Homo sapiens: one gene and its partners. The protein of the gene in region 3 interacts with the protein of the main gene of each other region in a pairwise test. Each region holds a gene or a part of one and is shown on either strand. Other genes may lie near its edges.

Region 1 (3,217 bases), on a different chromosome or scaffold from region 3:
TCCCACCTCACTCGCCAGGGTGAGACCCTCAATTTCCTGGAGATTGGATATTCCCGCTGCTGCCACTGCCGCAGCCACACAAACCGCCTAGAGTGTGCCAAACTTGTGGTAAGGTTGGGTTCTTGATGCCGGGGGGTGTCCTTTAACCCCAGACAGTATGTGTGTTTTAAGGGTTAGAGCACTAGGCCTGGGTCTGGAGGAACCTCAGGTCCCGTTCACTGGCCCTACCCTGGGCCTCCCCAATGTGCCAGGGGAGCAGAGGACAACCACTGTCTCTTCTTTATCTGCCTGCCCAGTGTCCTTTCCTGGAGCCTGGGAGGAAGGCAGGAATGTGGAAAGTGGGCTGATCCTCCCCTCTTGCTCTAGTGGGAGGAAGCAATGAGCCGATTCTGTGAGGCCGAGTTCTCGGTCAAGACCCGACCCCACTGGTGCTGCACGCGGCAGGGGGAGGCTCGGTTCTCCTGCTTCCAGGAGGAAGCTCCCCAGCCACACTACCAGCTCCGGGCCTGCCCCAGCCATCAGCCTGATATTTCCTCGGGTCTTGAGCTGCCTTTCCCTCCTGGGGTGCCCACATTGGACAATATCAAGAACATCTGCCACCTGAGGCGCTTCCGCTCTGTGCCACGCAACCTGCCAGCTACTGACCCCCTACAAAGGGAGCTGCTGGCACTGATCCAGCTGGAGAGGGAGTTCCAGCGCTGCTGCCGCCAGGGGAACAATCACACCTGTACATGGAAGGCCGTAAGTGGGCGTCCCAGCCTCCCTGAGAGCCTGTTTGCCTGCCTGCCCATCTTCGACCTCTGATCCTGCCAGTCCATCCATCCATGTACCCCCCCTGCTGTGAGTGCGTCCACCCGTTCATCTGCTTGTGGCTGTCCGTCCATCCATTGTGTTTGTCACCTGAGTTTGTTCATCTTGAGCTTCGTACTACACTTCTGGCCTCCTCCACTCATGATCCACACACGCATCTGTCTACCATCCATCCATCCGTCCAGCTCTGGCCTCACCTGACCTTCTCCATCCACTGTTCCAGCTCATCTCCCGGCACCAGCTTGGAACCTCATCCAGGCTTCCACCCGTCCACCTTCCCAAGCCCACACATCAACAGTTGCCTCCTAACCCTCTACTTTTTTGCCATTCCCTTTGGGCCTCTCGGGCTGGGAGCCCCTCATCTAGTTGCCAGGGACGATAAGGGAAGTCGATGGTCAGGAGAGAAGGGGCCAAGTGTCCAGCTTCTGACTTCCCTCTCTCTGGTCCACAGTGGGAGGATACCCTTGACAAATACTGTGACCGGGAGTATGCTGTGAAGACCCACCACCACTTGTGTTGCCGCCACCCTCCCAGCCCTACTCGGGATGAGTGCTTTGCCCGTCGGGCTCCTTACCCCAACTATGACCGGGACATCTTGACCATTGACATCGGTCGAGTCACCCCCAACCTCATGGGCCACCTCTGTGGAAACCAAAGAGTTCTCACCAAGCAGTAAGTTGCCTAGTCCTTCCCCACTCTCTTCCTTTCCCGAAAACTTCCTTTTGGGACACCTTTGGGAAAAGCAAAATCATGATATCCCAACCCCATCTGATGCCAGAAGATGCCCAAAGACCCTAACCCCTGCCCCTTTCACACCAACATAGTAAACATATTCCTGGGCTGATCCACAACATGACTGCCCGCTGCTGTGACCTGCCATTTCCAGAACAGGCCTGCTGTGCAGAGGAGGAGGTGAGTGTGTGGAGTCTAGTCTCCAGAGGAATGCAGGGGAGGGGAGGGAAAGAGCTAGAACTGCAGGCCACCCCTTCTCTTTAGTACCTCAAACCAGCCTTTGGTTATAATGACTAGTGGGGGAGGTGTTTTTTTCTTGGTTCCAGAAAAGTCTTCACTCTGACCTGGCCTGCTCCCCATCTCTAAGTTCCTATTATGCCTTCTCCGGGCCACAAGCTTCTGGCATTTCCAGATGTACACATTTGTCAGTCACAAGGAATCCAGCTGTGCAAGGCAGTCTTGTACTCTCTCTGGGCCCCAGGAGGGGAACGAGGGAGAGAGCAGTAGAAGCTGATGAAAGGGGGACTTTGGCACCCAAGTATCTACATCTGTCCTTGGACCACCTCCCCACCCCATCATCTGTTTTACTTTTCTCATTCATCAGAAATTAACCTTCATCAATGATCTGTGTGGTCCCCGACGTAACATCTGGCGAGACCCTGCCCTCTGCTGTTACCTGAGTCCTGGGGATGAACAGGTCAACTGCTTCAACATCAATTATCTGAGGAACGTGGCTCTAGTGTCTGGAGACACTGAGAACGCCAAGGGCCAGGGGGAGCAGGGCTCAACTGGAGGAACAAATATCAGCTCCACCTCTGAGCCCAAGGAAGAATGAGTCACCCCAGAGCCCTAGAGGGTCAGATGGGGGGAACCCCACCCTGCCCCACCCATCTGAACACTCATTACACTAAACACCTCTTGGATTTGGTGTCCTCATTGTCTATCTAATGTCTCACCCGCAGTGTTTTAAGTGGATCTTGGTGCCCTGGCCCAGGAGGGCACTGGCGTTTTCAGACACACCACAGACAAACACACCCTCCTAAGCCTGCTTGTATTTCCTTCAGTGCCTGGCCCCTGAGGCCCACGGCCCTGCCCCCTTCACTGAGCAGATGTTCACAGGCTGTGGGATGCGACCATAACTAAACAGCTTGACGTCACTTTGCCATCTTGAATTTATTCACATATTTTGAAAGGAGTGCCACCTTGTTAGCTAGCTATCAGGACTCAAAGAAGATATGGTTCTTGGCCTTGGTGAGCCCCCAAAATGCCACAGCCCAGCCTAACATTTTTAAAGCTTCACTTTTGATCCTTAGAATTCATGCCTTCATTCATTCAATATCCTTTTTTTTTTTTTCTTGAGACACAGTCTCGCTCTATCGCCCAGGCTGAAGTGCAGTGGCACGATCTTGGCTCACTGCAACTTGCAACCCTCCTGGGTTCAAGCGATTCTCCTGCCTCAGCCTCCCGAGTAGCTGGGATTACAGGCGTGCACCAGCACACCCAGCTAATTTTTGTATTTTTAGTAGAGACGGGTTTTCACCATGTTGGCCAGGCTCCCAAAGTGCTGGGATTACAGGCGTGAGCCACTGTGCCTGGCCAATATCCATTTATTGAACCCCTATCTATGCACACTCTGCTAGACTTGGGGATACACATCCAGAACACACACAGCCCC
Region 2 (7,036 bases), on a different chromosome or scaffold from region 3:
TGTAGTCTCTTTCAGTAACAAGTTTTTCCTTCCTTCCTTCTTTCTTTCTCTCTCTTTGTCCAATTATCAATACAATACAATTGGCTTTATTAACTGTTAGAGAATTTGCCAGCTTTCCTGGATGGTTCATACGGCACTCTGAGAATACTGGGCGTTTCTTCCATTACCCTTACAAGGAGGTTGTCGATGTAGTCCTCGAGTTCCCGGATGTGGGTGTCTTTCCTCCTAAGGAGTTCTTTGTGTTTCACCAGCTCCTGTAGAACCTCTTCATAGGTCAGACTACGATACCCTGCAGTGGCATCAAAGGGGTTGCTGTCCTAGAACAGGATAAAGACTGTCACTTTCATAGATATAACATCTGGGACAAACATTAAGAATTACCTGGAACTTCGACTTTTTGTTTTTCAAACCCTGATGAAGTTTTTCGCTAGCCTTGCTTAAAGTGAATGTGACAGTTCACAAATTGGCTAGCCAGTCCTGAGGCAAGAACTAGGGCAGATGCACCAAAGTTTTGACTATAACTCTAAATCCTAAAACCCTTTCTAACATTGTGGGCAATTTCCTAATATCTGAGACTGGTTATATCATGTAAGATTACATTAAGAGATGAAATATTCTATAATAAATACAACTAAAATAGATGAAAACTAAAGATTTCTAAAAGTTAACTCAGAGGAACTGTAAGAAGTAACTGAAAACTATACACTTGGACTTGTGTCCTTATGAAACTGCTTCCACTGAACTGTGATTTAATGTTATATGTTTGGCTTCTTAGTGAAGATGGTTACAGCAAAAATCTTTTCTAATTTGCTATGAAAATGGAAGCACTCGGAATTAAATCAAAGATTATCCTTACAGGAAGCCCCATGTGAGTAACTTCTGTTTTAATTTAGAAACAGGCAGAACTTTTCCTCCCCTGAGTAACTGGTCTATTTCTTTCTCCTATAATAATATCTAATTTATCTTCTTTCCCTTTTTGACCCTGGTTATCAGGAAACTCAAGAGTTCAACCATATTAATACTACGGTTAGTATATTTGCATTCTCTCCCATTTCATCTATTTACTTAACTTTATTCTATTGACAAAAATTCTTTTTAGGCAAAAGCATAAATATAACCAAAAATCTTTTTTAAAAGACACTTATTAATTCACTGTTATTACAAAGCATTCTAATATTAATGTTATATCAAAAGTGAAAGAAAAATATTTCTCAGGAATTTAATCAAGGCCCTGTAACATAATCTTTTATTTATAGTGTATAGCATTAAGAGTTTTCATTCTGTAAAACATAATGCCCAATTACAACTAAGCAATTTTTTATTCTTTTTAAATCATAGTTCTCTCATTAAGCCCAACAATTTAAAATAATTTTCATCACTATCTTTTAAAACATTTCCATTTGGCTTTAAGGAAACTTAACTAAAATATTGAGGAAATTGGTTTTCTTGCTGTTAAGGAATACTATCTAATCTATTCAGTGGAGGATGGGGAATGGGGACTGGTGAATGCAGAATGACCCCCACCCCCAATAAGAATTAAACTGTCCTTCCCTGTTTTCAGGATCTACTTTAATAGTGCTATGTATTTGGGGGTGTTCATGAGAAAAGCCAAAGTTTAACTTTTCACTGGCCCTCACCACTTCCCCAGCCTCTCAGCCCAAGGAACCAGGACTTTACCAGACCAGAGAAAGAGAAGCTAGAGTACAGATACCAATTTGATGCTTGGGTCATTGAAGCACACCCACTTCTCCAGGATAAGTGAAAACATTCAGGACTGAAAAACTTTTCCAATTTCATAGAATCTCTCAGGCTTTGTGGAGAAGATACAGCTTGCGCTAGGCCTTCAAGAGTTTGCAGGCAGAAATGCGTAATGGGGCATTTCAAGCAGTGAACTCTGCTTGTTCAAAGAAGGAAACAAGGCTCAAGGCATAGTGGCCAACAGGTAATCCAATAACAGGTACTCTGTAGAGCATGGCTGGAAAATACTGTACAGGACAGCGAGCAGACAGGGGCCGAAATGGAAGGTTTGAAATAGACCACCAAGAATGCTGAATGGTAGTATAAAGAATTTTTAGACTTTTGCTATGGAAAATAGGAAGCCACTGAAGGTTTCTAAACAGAGAAAGGATATGATTAAAGCTATGTTCCAGGAAAAGTAAAATGGCAACAGTGGAATCATTTGGAGGGGCTAAGATTAGGTATAGGGCTATTGAAATATGAAAGACCAGAGTTAGCAAGAATGAATAGAGAGGATATTAAAGGGAAGTGAGTTTAAATTCTATAAAATATGTCTAAAACAACTTAGTTTATTTTAGCATTAGAAACTGGAAACAGATGTAAGTTTCAGTCATATTTCCTTCATCCTTAAAAACATTTCAAATATTGTTCTAAAACCATTAAAGGACAATTCTAGAGATAAGTGTTGTTTTACTTCTCCCTCCTCTCTCAGATCAATTAATCTTTTATAAGTCTACACACATGCGCACACACACACACACACTCTCATGCACGTAGTTACTAGTTTAATTGGTCATAATATATAGTTTGGAGATACATAAGTATTAATTACATTCTTATAAAAGATTATGTTAAGCCGTTTTCTACAGTAAAGAGAAGACATAGTGTAGAGTTCGGTATACTTTTGAAATTTCTTAAAAATAAGCTAAAGTGTCTTACTTCAACTCGAGTAATTCTGCATAAATTTGAGAGAGAAAGCAACTTGGGTCTCACTTTCCTTATCTGATAGATGAGATGTTCTCCATGGTCCCTTTCAACTCTAAAATTGTCTGGTATACCAAGTGATTTTTCTAAACCCCACTTTAAAAACTAATAAACTCTAACTAATGTGATTTCACTTTTCTAATAAAACATTTACTGAGAAATTCATGTTCTTGTGAGAATTGCAGGGATTAATGAAAGGAAGCTAAATGGGATTCATTACTGATTAGTTGACTGCTTTATGCTTTTTCTTTATTTAACATAATAAAAGCATCTATTCAAGTCTCTCTAATCTTAATAAAATTACACATATATAAACTGATTTCTCCAAACTAATTAAGCTATGAAATAGTTAAAATAAAAGTGCACTGTTATATTTAACACTATTACCAGTTAATGTAGTTAAAAATTTTTTGTAACATTTCTCTAAAGACACTGAAGATGAAAAACGTTTCAAAAATTTGTGTTTTGATATAAATTAAAGCCATGATATAAATTAATAGTTTAATCTTTCAAAATAATCAATTATTATTTCAGACTACTGGTCATACTTTATAGCCATACTCTAGAATACACAGATATGTTATTTGGATTATTTTTTTTTTCCTTACAACAATCTAACACTAATGTGTAGACAGATTTCCTGGAAATACATTTCTGGCCTTTTCAATAAATTTTCCGTTTGTCCTTTTATGTGAAAATTTCACCTCAAATTTTAGCATCAAGTTTCTAGGCAGGAAAACATCTTAGAAACATATGTACTATGAATTATATTCTGGAAAAGAATATAAAATAATTAAAAACAGTTTCATGCTGAGTTCCAGATTTTATCTGATATTTGAAAACAATGTAAACCTTCTAATTTTAGGCATGAGATTCTTAAATTGACTGATATACTCCACATATATATATATATTTCTGTTTGTTGATATAACTCCAAATAAAATAATGATTAAGTAATATAAACAATAGAAAATTAAAACATATGCTCATTACAAAAATTATTTTTTTAGAGAGGAAAACTCTCAGGTAAATATAAAAATTATTTTTTCGAAAGATTATTCTTGCAAAAACTTGCAAAATTCATAACTCTCTAAACTGGCAAAGACCAAATGCAACTTACAATGGTTACTCCAAAGTGCTCAATATTTTTTCTTACAGTACTCCATACAGACAGCACTTATGTTTTTAAGATGTTTTCTTATTTTGAAATTTAATGTAAATTTTTCTTCTCTCTTCCCCTTTTACAACCAACCTTTTCTCATTTCTACTCCACCTCTGTTAAAAATGTCCATATGCAGACATAGAAGATGTGGACTGGTAAGAAAATATTAGAATTACTACATGAAGTTTTCTAACCCAGAATTTTAAATAATACAGTTTTGCATAAGATTTTGAGAACTGCTAGTGATCTATTTTTGCTTTACACAGTCTAGCCTTTTAAACTAGGAAATGTACATTTTTTACAATATTTAAATTTAAACAAAAGCAAATTATCAAGACTCAAAATAACTGAAGATTTAAAGAAAGGTTGTCCTGGTAACCAAATATTGGTGGGGTACTAACTGACATCCAAGGCAACTAGAGGAGAGAGAGAAAAAAAAATGAAGGCTTGGCATTCTCTGATCATCTCATTATTGTTCTAATGAGGAACTTTGCTCTGGGAATATCATCTCAGCTACTTTCACATCTTTTGTCCTACTCCCTTCATCTCCCTTTCAGTTCTTAATTAGGCCTTAAAGAGCTCACACTGCCCTTTCAACTGGCTACTGCTCCTGTTTAAACACTGTGCTTTCACAGACAGGTGTTGGCACTAGCATATAAGACATACAAACTTAATTACAAAATACTATGTCCAGAGGGAGAAAAAATAACTTGGTGGATGGCTATTATTGGAGAACTTAATGTAAATTACTTCAAACATCTTATAATCTTCAACATAAAAATTGTTCGAATGCTTTTCTTCAATCATGATCAGTACGAAGATGCGCTTCCTCCTCTTAATTGTATCTTGCAGTAAATTAACAACACCTAGTAATCCTTTAACTGTCATTTAGAATAGTTAGTATTCCAGAGAAAAATAATCACACATCAAGGATTCTTTTATCACCTTTAAATCCTTTAACTAAAACAATTTTCACATTTTATTTCTTTAAAGAATTCTAAGGATGCTTCTACAGCAATAAATTACAAGATTTGGAAAAGTACATTTACAAGCAATCGAAATTGTAATTAAGGTTACTTAATAAACAATAGCTACACATTAAATCGATTTTTTTGATGTTGCATTTTGTTTGAGATTAAGTAACCGCCTGATAGAATTCATTTTACTATCTGATCAAAGGCTGACTTCATATTTTCTCACATTTCTCGCCAGACTGCCATATTATAAAGACTTGAGAATTTATAAAACATCAAAACTTACGAATCGTTTAAATAAAACAGCAAAAACACAGTACAAAGTCCTGTGCTTCTGTAACAGTTTCCACAATTTTAAAGATAAACAACTGCATTTAGAATGGTTTAGAAAATAAACCCTAAACCCACCTTAGCTTCTTCTAGCCATGTCACATCCTAAAAAATAGTGATATGTGATATGGGATTGCCTAAAAAAATTCTTACTATACATCTGGATCGCACACATCAAGGACAGATGGTTGAAACAGCAACCACCAGTGTCTTGGAATAAAGCCTCTATTTCTGTTATTCAGTGAGAATTTAGTTTTCTACCAAGAACGTTTGCCCATATTTTGGCAAAGTAATTTATTCTCTACGTTTAATATAGTTAGAATTGATTGCAGATGCAATGGAACTCTGAACAGAGATTAAATACTGGACTTCAAATACTACAATAAAGTTCAGATTATCTGAATAATCCTTGCAAAATACGTGAGTTGATTTAGGTGGTCGCTACCAATCCTGTTAACATATTTGGTTTTGTTCTGACGAGAAAGATAAGTGTCCTAAAGTATTTGTTCTTTCAAATACTTTCCTGGTTATCTGGCTCTCCTGCCAGGATGCTTTTCTATTGTTGAATGTTAACAAGCAGCTTTATTCTTTCTTCAATCCTTGTCCCAACAACAACAAAAAATAGTCTTTTCTACGTGCTCTTATTTCATAACCACAAATTTGACCCTGACATACAGCTTGCATATTAATTTCAAAAGTCTGTAAACAAAATATGTATATTCTAAATTGGCTTCAATTATAACCAATTTTGCTTGAACTTTCATAGATCATACGAGTCACACCCTATTGTATATTAAAGGCAAAGATTGTATTTTACTTTCTTTCTTTCTCCTAAAATTACTACGCTAAGCTACAATTCTTAGGTAAGTGAGGCAGAAGGCAAGAAGACAAAGGCATTTTTAGAAATGTGTGCCAGAGAAAAAGACCAGCTTACTCTTTGACAACCCTCTAACCCCTTCAGCAACTTACCGGGATTTTCCTGAGGTCTTCATTGCTTGTTGGACTCATATGAAAACTAATAAAACACAAACAAATGTTAAAAGTGTCATAACTCATGTGGGAGGAAACATAAAAATAGAAAAATTTTAACCAACATTGTAATACAAATTTCTAAAGCCCTACATTATTCAGAGGAGTGAAATTTAATCCAAGAAGTAGAAAAAAATCCAGTATTTCCCCAACATTCTTAAAGCATCATTACAATTTCAAACTTTGAAGGAAAACTTTTTAGTTATCAGAACTGAAGAATGAAATAGGAAGTTTCTAAACAACTTTAAACATAGCACTTTTATCCAGCAAGATATTTTGCAAAACTAATTTGTGTGAGAGATTTCCCATTATATTTACACACAGTCACTCACCTTAGGCCCTCTGATATAAAACTAGGGAGAATTAAGTAAATTTAGGTTGGAAAGATTATAGAATAAAAGAGTTAAAGCAATCTGTTTAAAAATGCCATAAGTGTTAGAAAACTCAGCTTTCAAACATTACCCTATCAATAAGAATAAATTCAGAATTGTGGGAAACATTTCTCTCGTTAATGTGATTTCTAAGTAGCTAGTCTTGAAAATTTAAATACTGAAACGAATCAAAACAACACAGATTTCTCCCATGCAGAGAAGAAAACATCACAGCTGAATGCTATAACTATTTTCTTCTTTGAAACATGTCCATTAGATGGGACTGCAACCAAAAGACGCTAAACTTCAAAGCCATCTGATGAGTAAATATTTCATCGGTGCTATTCAAGTTTAATTTTTACCCAGCACTTAAAGGTATTAGCCTTTAAAACCTTCACAAAGCATTAGTGTCCTAAGAACCTTTTTATTCCATGCACAAAACAACAACT
Region 3 (7,001 bases):
GGGTGAGGTGGCATCAGGCCTGTGTGGGGCAGGGAGCCCGGGGTGTTGGGGTGCAGGAGGGTGAGATGGCCTCAGGCCTGTGTGGGGCAGGGAGCCCGGGGTGTCGGGGTGCAGGAGGGTGAGGTGGTCTCAGGGCTGTGTGGGGCAGGGGGCCCGGGGTGTCGGGGTACAGGAGGGTGAGGTGGCCTCAGGGTCGTGTGGGGCAGGGAGCCCGGGGTGTCGGGGCGCAGGAGGGTGAGGTGGCCTCAGGGCTGTGTGGGACAAGGATCCCGGGGTGTCGGGGTATGGGAGGGTGAAGTAGCTTCAACTTTCCATTAAGCTGCTGGCATCAGCTCCCCACACTGGGAGCGGGCTTAGGGAACCCCAAGCCTGGTGTGCAGCGTTTCGTTATCAGGTGAATCAGAACCGCTGGCTCCAGAGCTTGAGCCCCAGCCCCACTGGCAAATGGCCTCCCCCTGCCCACCTGGGGACTCTGGAAGCTTAGCTGAGTCCACGCAATTCACTTATACTGGATCTTGCAAGGACAAGGAAGTGTTTTATTTATTTACAACAAAAACATTTGTAACATAATTCTGTCTTCAAAACAGAGAACCCTACAAAATACACAAAGCAATCTCTATTGGTGTTGACTCAGGGACATTCGCAGCCGGAAGCAGGGCTGGGACTGGGAGGGAAGCCAAGGACTAATTCCGTCTAAAAAAACAAGAAACTGCCTTAAAAAAAGTAGCAGTGTTCTACTTGTCAGTAGCTGCGCTTTCCCCTCCCTTCTGTTACGAACACGGAAAACAGAAAACAGCACCTGTGAAAACACGTTTCAGCCGCGTCCATGAGAGATGCGGCCACAGGACATTCCAGCCCCTGCTCCTGGAAGGTGGCTGCCACGGCTGCGCTGGGAGCTCCCTTCCACTCCCCCAATGATGGAGAACCACAGCTCTCTCCCCTCGTTGGTAGGTGAAGAACCTGGGAATCAAACAGCCATTAAAAACATCTCAGGACTCAGCAGCTGCCACACGACGTCACAGTCACATGTGCTGAGGGCTAGCAGCTGAGGTCAGGGAAGGGCATGGCCGGTGACCACACAGGAGCCAAGAGACAGATGCCATCACCGTGTGGCCCTACTAGATGGGCTCTGGGAAACTTTTTTTTTTTTTTTTGAGACAGAGCCTTACTCTGTCACCCAGCTGGAGTGCAGTAGCACAGGCTCTGCTCACTGCAACCTCTGCCTCCCGGGTTCAAGTGATTCTCCTGCTTCAGCCTCCTGAGTAGCTGGGATTACAGGCACGCACCACCACGCCTGGATACTTTTTTTTGCATTTTTAGTAGAGACAGGATTTCGTCATGTTGGCCAGGCTGGTCTCGAATTCCTGACCTCAAGTGATCTGCCTGCCTCGGCCTCTCAAAGTGCTGGGATTACAGGCGTGAGCTACCCTTTCCCTTCTCTTTCCTCCCTACCCCAATACAACCAAAGGAGCCAGCACCTGAGAGAGGGAAGAGGAGGTGGGGTGTCAGGAACAGACCCCTTTCCAGTCAGACTTCCAGAACCACAGGCAACGGGACAGAAGTAAGTAAAGACTGAGGTGGTGCCAGGCGCATTGGCTCACACCTGTAATCAAAGCAGTTTGGGAGGCTGAGGCGGGCGGATCACTTGACATCAGTAGTTCGAGACCAGCCTAGCCAACATGATTAAACCCCATCTCTACTAAAAATACAAAAATTAGCCAGGCGTGGTGGCTGGTGCCTGTAATCCCAGCTACTTGGGAGACTAAGGCAAGGAGAATTGCTTATACCCGGGAGGCAGAGGTTGCAGTGAGCCAAGATCGCCTGAGTGACAGAGTGAGACTCCGTCTCAAAAAAAAAAAAAAAAAAAAAAACCAAACCAAACAAAAACAAACAAACATTTCCATAACATGATAAGAAAAAAATACAGCTCAGCCAAAGTCAGCATGGTGTTTAACGGTGGAGCGAGCAGCAGCTCCATTACGGTCATGAGGCACACCCATCGCTACTGTTCTAGAAGCATGCACCGCACCATCAGGCTCTGAATAAGACATGAGAGGAGGGCCAGGCACAGTGGCTCATGCCTGTAATCCCAGCACTTTGGGAGGCCAAGCTGGGGGGGATCACCTGAGGTCAGGAGTTCAAAATCAGCCTGGCCAACATGGTGAAACCTCGTTTCTACTAAAAATACAAAAATTAGCTGGGCGTGGTGGCAGGCACCTGTAATCCCAGCTACTCGGGAGGCTGAGGCAGGAGAATCGCTTGAACCCAGGAGGCAGAGGTTGCAGTGAGCCGAGATCACGCCACTGTACTCCAGCCTGGGTGACAAGAGTGAAACTCTGTCTTGTGAGGGGAAACAAAAAAGATACAAGAGGAGAAGACAAAATGACCATTACCGGCATATGGTATCACATACCTGATGCATGCAGTGAAACTGCTGATAGAACTCACAGAATTAATGACAGAGTTATCAAAAATAACTTAAAAACATCAGAAAGGTGTTTGGTTATAGAGAAACAATTAGGCAATTTACAGAAAGGCCACCTCAGTCTGGAAACATGTGAACAGAGACCTGGTCAGGGAACTGCTAATGCTAGTAATGAGATCCTATTTGAGATACACCAACCTGGCAAATATTAAAAAGTCTAGCAATCCAAATGATGGCAAAGCGACGGAATGGAATCTCTCAGACACTACCAAGAACAAACTGGTACAGCCACTGGAGAGGTCAGTTTAGCATGACCTAGTTCAGGCAAAGACACACCCATCACAACCAGTGATAGGACTTTGACTGTCACAGGAAAGTCAGGCGTGAGGATAGCTCCATGACCATGTTTCTGTGTGTCTATCTAATCTCTACCTACCTACCTGCCTACTAATCACTGTGAAAACCATTTCCATATCCTGACAGGATGGAATGCTATCCAGCCACTTCTTAAAAACGACGTAGTTCTCTTTGTGTTAACTTAGAAAACACTCAAAATGCAATAAAAATATATTCTAGTACAAAATGTATAATTCTTTTTGTGGACAAGTTACATATACACTCACTTTTTTTTTTTTTTTTTTTTTTTTTTTGAGACAGAGTCTTGCTCTGTCGCCCAGGCTGGAGTGCAGTGGCACGATCTCTGCTGTCTGCAAGCTCCGCCTCCCGGGTTCAAGCCACTTCCTTGCCTCAGCCTCCCGAGAAGCTGGGACCACAGGCGCCCGCTACCACACTCAGCTAATTTTTTGTATTTTTAGTAGAGACGGAGTTTCACTGTGTTAGCCAGGATGGTCTCGATCTCCTGACCTCGTGATCTGCCTGCTTCGGCCTCCCAAAGTACTGGGATTACAGGTGTGAGCCATCGCACCCGGCTGGCATGTGGCATTTTTATAATTCAAAATTAAGTACTACCAAAAAATTGGAGAGTGGGTACAGGAACAGCAGAAAGATGTTCACTGTCAAGCCTGGGTAATGATACATGGGTAGTGATCATGTTATCATTTTTTTTTTTTTACCTTTGGAGACGTTTGAAAATGTCCATAATGACAAGTTTAATAATAATCAAGTGAAAAAAGAAAGTTTTGATCTAGGGTGTGTCCCATGAAATGACTTTAGGAATAAGCCCTAAAATCAATATTCTCCAGGCATGAATGCAGATGGGGGGAGATCAACTTCAAGCTCCCTACAGACGAAGGGATCCCACGAGGTTCAGGTAGTTGAATTTTCAAATCGGAGCCAATAAAAAGTAACACTTTAGCATAAACGAGAATGCGCCAACATAGGAAAGCTCAGCTCACATTTCATTTTGAAAACCCAATACATGTATCGCACAGAGGTGCAAAGTCAGAAAAAAGCTGTATCCGTGGCTCAAGGAGAAATAAGTCCGGAGATCGACAAAGACAATGGCAGTCAGGCTGAGGCAGCGAACACAGACAAAGGTCCACAGCCGACTCCAGCTGAATCCATTCCTACGAACCAGGCTGCTTCCACGGCGGGTGGGCCCCAGGCCTCGGAAAAGGCACAGGGACTGTGAACTAGAAACCCAAGCAGCAATGCCAGTGGTGTCCACCATAATCGCACAACATAATAAGCAGTAATCAAAGAAGGGTGTGAAATGTAACAGAGAAGACAGAGGAGTGATGTAATCGCGGAGCCACGGGCTGGAGGCTGTAGAGCCCAGGATGTTTCTGTCGGAAATCGGAGGACAAAGAGCTGAGGATCAAGGCTCAGCAGGTGCCGTTCCCACGGTGGCGGTGGGTGTCGTGTGCCAGCCCTGCCTCGCAGCCCCAGCCTCAAGCACTTCCCTGTACCCTGCAACGGGGAACTAGAGTAAACTCAGCCATGAACATCATCTGGTGAGAAGACCCTGGAACCCTGCATGGGTCACTCAGCCCTTCAAAAACACTGATCAAAGTTATGGCTGCCTCTTCAAAATCCCAGCAGATGAACCAAGGCTGTACATAGTAAACGTGGAGAATGAAAGACCTTCCTGAAACCATTCAACTGGTTCCCCTTCCCAAAATGCATTACTCAGCCAATCTTAAGAACCTAATCTGGATATCTCCAAAAATATCAACTGAGGGGGAAAATTTTTTGAGGAGTCCTCACCCCTTGGGACTCTGCTGTGACACTCTGGCCAGCCCGCAAGGCGGCAGTCCTCCGGCCTGCTGGGTCCTCCACCTGCCCCTTCCACTCCTGCCAGGCGGCTTCTCAGAGCCAACCCTCATTGCAGGGACTCCCTGACCTGCTTCTCCCCACCCAACCTGTGGCCCTGGCTCTCTGGCGGCCACTCCATGCTGACTGCTGCACTTCCTGCAGCCACCCTCGTGCTCCACCAGCCCAGCTCTCTGCTCCTCCCTTGGCCACGTCCCTCTGCAGGGAGTGCGATTACTTCCCCACTGTCACAACTGGCCACCTAGTCCCATGAGAATGCGCATGGAGCTGAGTGGTCTGGAGCCCACCCTTTCCAGGCTGACATGGAATGAGAGCGCCTGCAGGTACCTCCCGGTTTTGGGGGTGGGCCAGGCCTCACAGCATGGCTCTGCTGCACTTCCTCCAACAACTGCAGCTCACCACCACCAGCTGCCACTGTGCTGTGATACATGGTCAAAGAAGGGTCAAAGTGCCATCCAAACTGCCACGCTTGTTTAAAAACAAGGTTTAGGGAGGCCAAGGCAGGAGGATCACTTTAGGCCAGGAGTCTGAGACCAGCCTGGCCTACATGGTAAAACCTCGTCTCTACTAAAAATAACAAAAATAAGCCGGGCGTGGTGGCGCACGCCTGTAATCCCAGCTACTGGGGAGGCTGAGGCAGAAGAATTGCTTGAACCTGGGAAGCAGAGGTTGCAGTGAGCTGAGGTCGTGCCACTGTGCTCCAGGCTGGGCAATAGAGCGAGACTTTGCCTCAAAAAAAAAAAAAAGAAGAAAAAAAGAAATACTGTGATAATTACCAAAATGTAAATCAGAGAAATAAATTCAGCACATGCTGTTGGAAAAATGGCACCAACGGACTTGCTTGATGTGGGGTTGTAGCAAACCTAGCATTTGTTAACAATGTAAACAGTACAGCAACCCTCAAGTGCAGTAAACAAACAGCAGAAAGATGAGGTGAGCTGTGTCCATCAGGCCCCAGCCACCAGAAGGGAGCACGAGAAAGGAAATGTTCTGAAAGACGGCTGTCAGGATGATCTCATCTGGGACGGAAAGGATTAAGCCGAGAATGCTGAGGATGCAGAGTGCTGAGTTATCTCTGCATTGGCAAGATGTGTAGTCCCTCACAGATGCTGATCTGTAACAGAGTATGAGAGATGGGAAAATGCCCCCCAAGATATCCTTGTTCCAATTCCCGGAACCCACGAATACATTACCATACATGGCAGAAGGGATTCTGTGGTTAAATGAAGGATCTTGAGCTGGGCGATTATCTTGGTCAGCCCAATGTAATCAGATCCTCGTAAAAGGGAGGCAGGAGGGTCAGAAAAAGGAGGAGACAAAATGACAGAAGCAGAGGGGAGAGAGGGGCTGAATGAGAGATTCACAGAGAGGGTGAGAGAGAGGGAGAGACAGAAAGGGAGAGAGGGAGAAATATTGGAAGATATCATGCCGCTGTCTTTGAAGAAGAGGAAGGGGCCACTAGCCAAGAAATGCAGGCAGCCTCTCTAGGCCATTTCTTGGAGAAGCAAAAGGAAGTTAGTGCAGATTTGCTCGCATTCATGGCCATGATATTCAGCTCACCAAAAAAATGAAGCTGTATGACCTCAGGATGCCAAACATCCTGGAGATGCCCCTCTGTCTGCCTCTTGCTGCCTTTTCTGTTTGGACTGATGCTGACAATGACTGCTGTGGGTGCCCTCACAGTGACGGCAGACCACATCCTTCTCACCTTGTGAATGTCTGAGTGACCTCTGAGCTAGAGAGAACTTTTGCTCATAGCTCTTCACTTATCTATTAGATTTGAAAACCCTTCTCTGGATTCTTGAACCTCTGAGGCTCACCCCAGTTCATCTCAGCTTCACCCTGGGTCGGTGGCTGCTTGGGAGCGTAGGGGAGCATCAAAAGTATGACAGTCAATAACAGCTACAACCAAAGGTCTTGAGAACAGGATCAGCACCTGCAGAATGGGGGTCAGCCAGCAAAGCTGGCGGGGACTCATGCTCTCCCTAGAAGGTACAAGGCACTGGCTTGATGTCAATTCCTTATTGCTTAGGCTCACTTCTTTCACTCACTACCTGTACACTTAATTATCCAGGTTGGTGTTTGGGATTATGTATGCTTGGAGGCAGGGCTTATGCACCTAATGAACGCAAGAAATTAAAAACAGACTAAGCCGATATCTGACGGTCTTCATGAAGCATAAACAACTCCACAGTGATCTTAAAGATGTGACTGCTCCATGGCTGGGCGCGGTGGCTCATGCCTATAATCCCAGCACTCTGGGAGGCCGAGGCAGGAGGATCGCTTGAGGCCAGGAGATCGAGATCAGCCTAGGAAATATAATGAGACCCCATCTTACAAAATA
Region 4 (7,036 bases), on a different chromosome or scaffold from region 3:
AGCAGGGGCTGAGACTGACCCCGCCTCATCCACCACGGGCGCCTGGTCGAAGCCCTTCTCCCGGAGGATCTCGATGGTGTGCCCACAGGTGATGGTCGGGAGCACGGTCAGCGGGGCTGACAGGCCCAGCTCCTGAACACGGAGGTGCCACCACCTGAGGGAAGAGGGCAGGTCGGGGGGATCAGGATAAGGACAAACGCTCTCGCACCCCCGCCGGCAGCACCTCAGCAGGAGGCCACAGGGACCGCTCTCCTGCCTGTCACACTGGGCAGGGCCAGCACAGGCCACGGGGACCGCTCTCCTGCCTGTCACACTGGGCAGGGCCAGCACAGGCCACGGGGGAGTGCTCTCCTGCCTGTCACACTGGGCAGGGCCAGCACAGGCAGCGGGTCTCCGGCCGAGCGGTCTTACCAGGGCTTCTTCTCCGTGAGGTCCTCCTCCTTCAGAAAGCCCTTCTGCAGCATCCACCTGTCGCTCAGGAACTTGGTCCTGCGGGATGGGGGAGTCACCGAGTCCCCGCAGGGCCCCACCGGGCCCCCGCCCCTGCTGAGTGGCACGCACTGCCTGCCCAGCCCCTCTCCTGGACCTCACTGGTGCAGCAGAGACCCCCAAGTGCTGGCTGGAAGCCCCAGGGGGAAGCCTGGGGGCTGGACTTCCCGCCCCCATGGCCAACAAGCGTGTGTGAGCATGCACACAGCCATCGCTCAGGCACTCAGATAAACACGTCCTCTCATGCTCGCTCTCTGCCCCTCACACACTCACACGCACAGGTACACATGGCAGGCTGGCCAAGTATGTGGGGAGATGGTGTTCTTGCACTGACGGGGGTGGGCAGGAGCCCTGCACAGGGCATCTTGACCCTGGGCACCAGATGTGAATCACCCCACACTGGGGAACCCAACTGGGGGCACCCACCAGCCAGGCCTGGCCCTCCAAGGGCAGCTGAGCTCTCGGGAGCTGTGTAGCCGCTGCAGCTTGCAGGCCATGGAGGAAACCCTGCAGGTGCAGGGGACAGGGCATGGGGGTCTGTAGACACCCGCCCTGGTACCGCCTCCGGAGACCAGGTGCAGAGCAGCGCCAGTCTCAGCCTGGCTGCCCGGTGACCAGCGAGGTCTGTGGCGTTACTGTCCGAGGGGCCTCTGGGCAAAACAGTCACAGCAAGTCCTAGGGGGCCACCTGGGCAGCACTCGGTCCCAATCTGGAGTTTGGGGGAAGCAGCAGAGGGAGTCAGGGTGGATAGGAGGTGGCACAGGGCCCGGCCCAAGAGGACGTCAGTCCATGTGGCCAGGGCTACCCGTTGGAGCTCACGGACCCCAGAGCAGTGAGGGGGACAGACACCAGAGAGGAAGGGACAGGAGGGACAGAGAGGGAGCCACCGTCTTTCATGCCCCTCCTGTCAGGGCTGTCACTGCGAGTGTGCATTGATTTTCACAGCATTAAGAGGCTGGGAAGCCCCACAGCGTGAGGGCACGTGGGCAGGAGAGTGGAGGCGGTGCTCACAGGGCCCCGCTGGCCTCCTCCCCTCCCAGTTCTGGCTGCCGGTTCTCAGGTGAGGCGTGAGAGGCATCCAGGGAAGGGTGGCAGGATGGAGAGGAGCAGGGACCTGGGAGGGAAGCCGTGTCTTACATGTAGTTCCGCACTGAGTCGGGCAGAATGACCACGCAGCGCTGGCCCTCCTGCAGCTCCTGCGCGGCCTTCACGGCCACCGCCACCGTGCTGCCAGCACTGCCACCTGCAGAGAGGGCCACGAGTCAGACGCGCCAGGGTGAGCGTGCGTGGGTGCACACGTATGCATGAATTGTGCACGTGCACGCATGGGAGCATGTCAGACACACTCCGAAGGATCCGTCAAGAGGGGTTGCCTCGGGGAGAGGGGCTGGGAGGACCCCACTTCTCCGTGAGCATCGGCTTCTTCCTTGTGCACCATGGAGTTTCTGTGTCCACTCGGGGCTTCATAATGAGCTGGGGTGGGCACTGGTGCCAGGGAAATGCCTGCAGTGGGGCTGCGGCCCCTGGCAAACCTCCTGGCCCTGAGCCTAGAGCCAGCGATGCTACGAGGACGGAGCCCCCAGCACCACGCCTGCAGGCTGCCTGACTGCACACTGGGCTCTGCTTTATAAACAAGAGACCAAGGCTCACAGTGACACCAGCTGTCCCTAGGAGCCCTGAAGTCAGAGTCAGAGGCGTCTTCTCTGGGCTTAGTTTGAGGGTGCACACAGCAGTCGGGAAGGTCTAAGTCTGCAGTAGGAGCCCCCACAGGAAGAGAGGCACCCTCCTCTGTAACGGGGCCCATGGACCTGCTTTCCAGCCCCAAAGGCAGGGGCTTGTTTCTCCACCAACATGGGGAGCAGGGAGACTGAGACAGGGAGAGCCCAACGATTATGGGCACCAAGTCACCTTTCGTGACAGATTCATCTGGAAAATGCTTTTCTTTTCTTTTTTTTTTTTTTGAGATGGAGTTTTTGCTCTTATCACCCAGGCTGGAGTGCAATGGCGTGATCTCGGCTCACTGCAACCTCCACCTCCCAGGTTCAAGCAATTCTCTTGCCTCAGCCTCCCGAGTAGCTGGGATTACAGGCATGCACCATTACATCGGCTACTTTTTTTTTTTTTTTTGGTATTTTTAGTAGAGACGGGGTTTCTCCCTGTTGGCCAGGCTGGTCTTGAACTCCTGACCTCAGGTGATCCACCCGCCTCGACCTCCCAAAGTGCTGGGATTATAGGCATGAGCCAACGCGCCTGGCTGGGAAATGGTTTTTCAATCAAGACTTTCTTCCAATCTCTAGTTTGGGGCTCAGCTAACGGGGGACTTGGCCATGCTGAGGGCTGGTTTCCTTCCACTTTCCCTGTCACCACCCCCAAAGTGACATGACACACGGAATGCACATGTAGAAACCTCACATGTCCCTGCCTGCGTTTTAGAAGCTGGTGTGTGCTCTCCGAGTCCCCAGAGGTCTAGATCAACTGTGGTCCCTACAGGGCCTCTGCTGCCTGTGTGGCTAGTCAGTGGCATTGCCAGCGGCCACCTGGTCTGTCCACCCCCAAGCAGGTGGGCAGAGGGGCACGGGGTAGGAGGAAGGTGAGCGGGGTCGAGCTGGACAGCCTCAGGCTCCAGTCCCCTCCCCAGCTGCTCCAGGGTGCTCGCAGCACCCAGTCCCGGCCATGGGCCCCGTCAATGCAGAGCCACCGCCCCAGGGGCCCTGGTGGACTTGATTAGAAACAATAAGTGCCATGAGAGCTTCAGCCTTGTTCTAGAAACACATTCTGGAAGGCAGCTCGAAGCCCCGCCCCATGGCCTCCTGCCCTCACCTGAGCAGGTGACCACACTGGGCAGGCAGACAACACCTGAGGCTCGTGGCCGCCGCAGTGACACTCCTCAGAACTGCTGTCTTACACATGCAGGTCGGTGGCTGACTGAGGGTGCGCCCCCAGCCATCCCCAGTGCCCCCTAGCCATCTCTGCCTTCCCCATACCCCCGTGCCCGCCACCCACTCACCGCACAGCAGCCCCTCTTGCGCGATCAGCATGCGGGCAAAGGTGAACGCCTCCTCATCGTTGCTCTTGAACCACTTGTCCACCACCTGAGCAGGACCCCACCACAGCCCGTCAGCGTGGGAGCCGCTCCCACGTGACCAAGAGGGTGAACAGCCTCATGGTGGACCCCGTGTCTAGGCGGTAGGACCCCAGAGGTCTCACCCCAGCCTCTCCCCCTGGGATCGGCACGTCTGCAGACTTTCCAGTTCCAACACGTTTTGCAGACAGCAAAACTGCCCGCCAGCCCCACTGAGCATCCGTGTGACCCACACCGGCCCTTCGGTCTCTGCTCTCCCTCAGGCCAAAGTCAGCTTTTTGGCTCTTAACAGACTTTTCCGGGGCCTTAATTTTCACACGTTTTCCCTGCTCCCTGCCTGTGCCACCTGGGCTACATCCCTTGGTGAGGTCAGGCCACGTGTGCGGACATCGTCCCCCAGTCTACTTTGTCTCGACCTTCGAGACCAGCTTCTCACCATGCGTGCGGGGCTTGCCCTTCTGTTTCAGTGGAGAAGCTGGTTGGGGCCCAGGGTCAGCCAGGCTCCCCAGTGTGAGGGTGAGTTACAGGCTGCACCGGCACTGTGGCCGGGCTCTGGACTCGACCTACCGTCCTGTCCAGCACCGTGGGGATGAAGTCGTAGCCGATCCCTTCCACCTCGTAGGTTGTCTGCTCCGTCTGGTTCAGCTCCTCCGGCTCTGCGAGGATGGACCCTTCGGGATCCACCCCAATGATCTGCAGAGGGCGCGGCTTCAGGGCTCAAGGCCAGCAAAAGCCCCGCCTGGACATGCCTCGATATTCTATTATGGGAGTGGCCAATACCGCCGTTAACAACTGCCTGTTAATGATCTGCCTGTGGGTGGTGGCCTGTTCCCAGCCTCAGAGGCAGGATGAGAAACCCAAGAACCCAGGCTCCAAGTATTAAAGCGGTAATGACCTAAATGTTCAGTGCAGGGCGCTCAGAAGTAAAGGCAGGTGCCTGGGAGGAACTGACCTCCCCGGGGTGCTTCTCGGAGCGGGGCCCCCAGGACAGTCCAGACAGACCACCCTGCGGCGGAGCAGCAGAGCCTTTGGGGACAAAGGGCATTGCTGGGCAGTGACGTCTTTTTCAAGGGCAAGCAACAGGGAGAGAACGCCCTTGTCTCATCAGCGGGACCTTTCTAGGCACCCGTCCTCAGACCTGCTCTTAACCCCGAGTCCAGGAACCCTCTCCCAACTCCCACAAGCCCCAGTTGAGGGGCAGACTCAGGACCAGAGGACTTAGAGCTCCTGGCTGATCCTCAGAGGCCCCCAGTTGGAACTCCGACCCCCCACTCAGCGCAGGAAGGTTCTCCAAGACACTGGCCGGTGAGCGAGCACCCAGCCCCAGCTCCTTCGGGTCACGAGCTGCTGGTCCCTTATGTGTCAAGCACCCTTGTCTTCCCAAACACCTCCCAGGCAGCGCAGAAATACCGCGGGAGACAGCGTGCTGAGCAGACCGTGAGGAATGACAGCTTTCAGCTCAGAAGCCGGGGCCACTCCGCACTGCCCCTCTCCGGCCCGGCCACACCACTCACCCTGCATCCAGGACACTTCTCCTTCAGCTTCCTGGCAATGCCCGTGATGGTGCCGCCCGTGCCCACTGAAGCCACCAGCATGTCCAGCTTCCCTGGTGGACGGATAACATTCTTGGGTCCCTGCCTGGCCAGCCCATCACTCATAGTAATAATCATTGAAAACACACTCAGCCCAAACCACGGTGGGTAACCAAAAAGTTCAAAAGAAAAACTTCTTCTCCAGTTGGAGCAGCCCTCGTTGCTGCCCTTGGTCTGTGAAAGCCTCAGAAACAGGCAGCCTGGGGCACCCCAGCCCAGTCTTTGCTCAGTGACACTCGACCCCTAAAACCCCCATTTGGCTGGATGCAGAAAGACAGGACCCTGTCCGGGGGGTGCAGGCGCTGAGGGCGGGCAGAGGGAGGCTGTGAATTAACCACCTCCGTGGGCTGTTGGATGTTTGCGTGGTGTGAGTGAGTTAACTGAATTTACACAGGAAATGGAATCAGTCTTTTAGGCTTCAGCGCAGAAACTCGCTGGGCGCTCACACTGCTGGCCGCCAGCGCGGGCATCTGGTGGAGAAGTCACAGCAGGGAAAGACTCAGCGAGACGGAGCAGCTTGGGCACCCATGCTGAGACAGGACTGTTTTTGCCAAATGAGAGAGTTCTCACACATAAAGCCCAAACAACCAAATGCCTGGACCTTACAGCCCGGCTCCTGGGCACGGACTGAGGGTGTACTCCAGCCCATGCCAACACCGGATTCCCAATAGGAAGCCAGGGCGCCAACCTCTTGGCAACTTATCTCTAAAGGGATCTCTTGGGAAAACCTCAGTACCAACCCCCACAGGCCTTGGCACCGAGTCCCTGGAAAAGGGCCCAAGGAGCCGGCCTCATGCTTGTAACAGAGAGTGAGCTCATCGCAGATGTCACCAGCTCTGTTCTGCAGATGAATTTGATGCCGAGTCAGGGCATGATCCCAAATGAAGTCCAAGCTGTGAGCCCAGCACCAGCCTGGGCCCTGAACAGACTCGCTGTCTGCATTATCTGCAGGAGGAGCCCCTGCAGACCTGCAGAGATTGCTGGGTAAACAAATACAGCCATGCCCTGTGTTTGCTATTACAGGTAAACCACAGGCGGAGGCCAAGAGGGCACAACGGAGGGAGGAAATTGTTCTAGAGAAATGCTCTAGAAAAGCATTTCACAGAGGGAACATTTGAGCTGGGTTCTGAAGGGTGAATAGGAGTTCACCAAGGAGAGGGCAAGAGATGTGTACACTCCCAGGCAGCCAGGGATAAATGCAATCAAGATGGACAGAGGGACGCACCATCACACTGCTGCAGGATCTCATCAGCGGTGGTGTCGTAGTGAGCCAGGGGGTTGCTGGCGTTGCGGTACTGCATAGAAAGAGAGCAGAGCCCGTGAGCTGACCCCTGACACCTCAGTCACCCCCACATCCCTGACCGAGACCCTCCTAGGGAATGCCTGTCTCCAGGCCCCAGGTGCCTCACCTGGTCTAGGATGTGAGAATTGGGGATTTCGTTCTTCAGCCGCCAGGCCACCCCCACGTGTGACTCCGGGGAGTCGAACCTGGCATTGGTGGGCGTCCTCACAATCTCAGCCCCCAGTGCCCGCAGCACGTCCACCTGCAGGAGGGAAAGCGGTGGCCTGCACCTTCCGCCTGGCCCAGGCACCCTCATCCCCTGCCCTATGACCCCGCCCCTGGCCACGCCCACCCACCTTCTCGGAGCTCATCTTCTCTGGCATCACGATGATGCAGCGATAGCCCCTCACTGCCGCAGCCAGGGCCAGCCCGATCCCTGAGGGCACACAGAGGGTGAGAGGGGCCCAGTGACCCCCCAAGCCCTGCCCCGCCCCTGCCTGGGACACAGGGGCACACCCCGATGCCGGTTCCCTTAGGGCCCAGGGAAGAGGGTTCTGTGGGATTCCAAAATTGCCCAACATGGCTGCTTCT

Evidence for each region.
Region 1: the proteins of FKBP6 (region 3) and ECM1 interact in binary tests that used the Homo sapiens proteins (3 or more experiments, as listed by UniProt).
Region 2: the proteins of FKBP6 (region 3) and RAB11FIP2 interact in binary tests that used the Homo sapiens proteins (3 or more experiments, as listed by UniProt).
Region 4: the proteins of FKBP6 (region 3) and CBS interact in binary tests that used the Homo sapiens proteins (3 or more experiments, as listed by UniProt).

The regions. Positions count from the first base shown.
Region 1 is NC_000001.11:150,511,091-150,514,307, forward strand, and holds the end of ECM1 (extracellular matrix protein 1 isoform 1 precursor), read left to right. Parts: coding exon 1-108; intron 109-366; coding exon 367-741; intron 742-1,261; coding exon 1,262-1,482; intron 1,483-1,634; coding exon 1,635-1,722; intron 1,723-2,146; coding exon 2,147-2,377; 3' UTR 2,378-2,699; downstream 2,700-3,217. UniProt on the Homo sapiens protein: Involved in endochondral bone formation as negative regulator of bone mineralization. Stimulates the proliferation of endothelial cells and promotes angiogenesis. Inhibits MMP9 proteolytic activity.
Region 2 is NC_000010.11:118,008,909-118,015,944, forward strand, and holds part of RAB11FIP2 (rab11 family-interacting protein 2), read right to left. Parts: intron 6,203-7,036; coding exon 6,157-6,202; intron 318-6,156; coding exon 90-317; 3' UTR 1-89. UniProt on the Homo sapiens protein: A Rab11 effector binding preferentially phosphatidylinositol 3,4,5-trisphosphate (PtdInsP3) and phosphatidic acid (PA) and acting in the regulation of the transport of vesicles from the endosomal recycling compartment (ERC) to the plasma membrane.
Region 3 is NC_000007.14:73,352,140-73,359,140, reverse strand, and holds the end of FKBP6 (inactive peptidyl-prolyl cis-trans isomerase FKBP6), read right to left. Parts: intron 961-7,001; 3' UTR 516-960; downstream 1-515. UniProt on the Homo sapiens protein: Has an essential role in spermatogenesis. It is required to repress transposable elements and prevent their mobilization, which is essential for the germline integrity.
Region 4 is NC_000021.9:43,058,815-43,065,850, forward strand, and holds part of CBS (cystathionine beta-synthase), read right to left. Parts: intron 6,882-7,036; coding exon 6,802-6,881; intron 6,708-6,801; coding exon 6,573-6,707; intron 6,459-6,572; coding exon 6,389-6,458; intron 5,178-6,388; coding exon 5,086-5,177; intron 4,265-5,085; coding exon 4,139-4,264; intron 3,582-4,138; coding exon 3,497-3,581; intron 1,733-3,496; coding exon 1,627-1,732; intron 490-1,626; coding exon 412-489; intron 155-411; coding exon 20-154; intron 1-19. UniProt on the Homo sapiens protein: Hydro-lyase catalyzing the first step of the transsulfuration pathway, where the hydroxyl group of L-serine is displaced by L-homocysteine in a beta-replacement reaction to form L-cystathionine, the precursor of L-cysteine.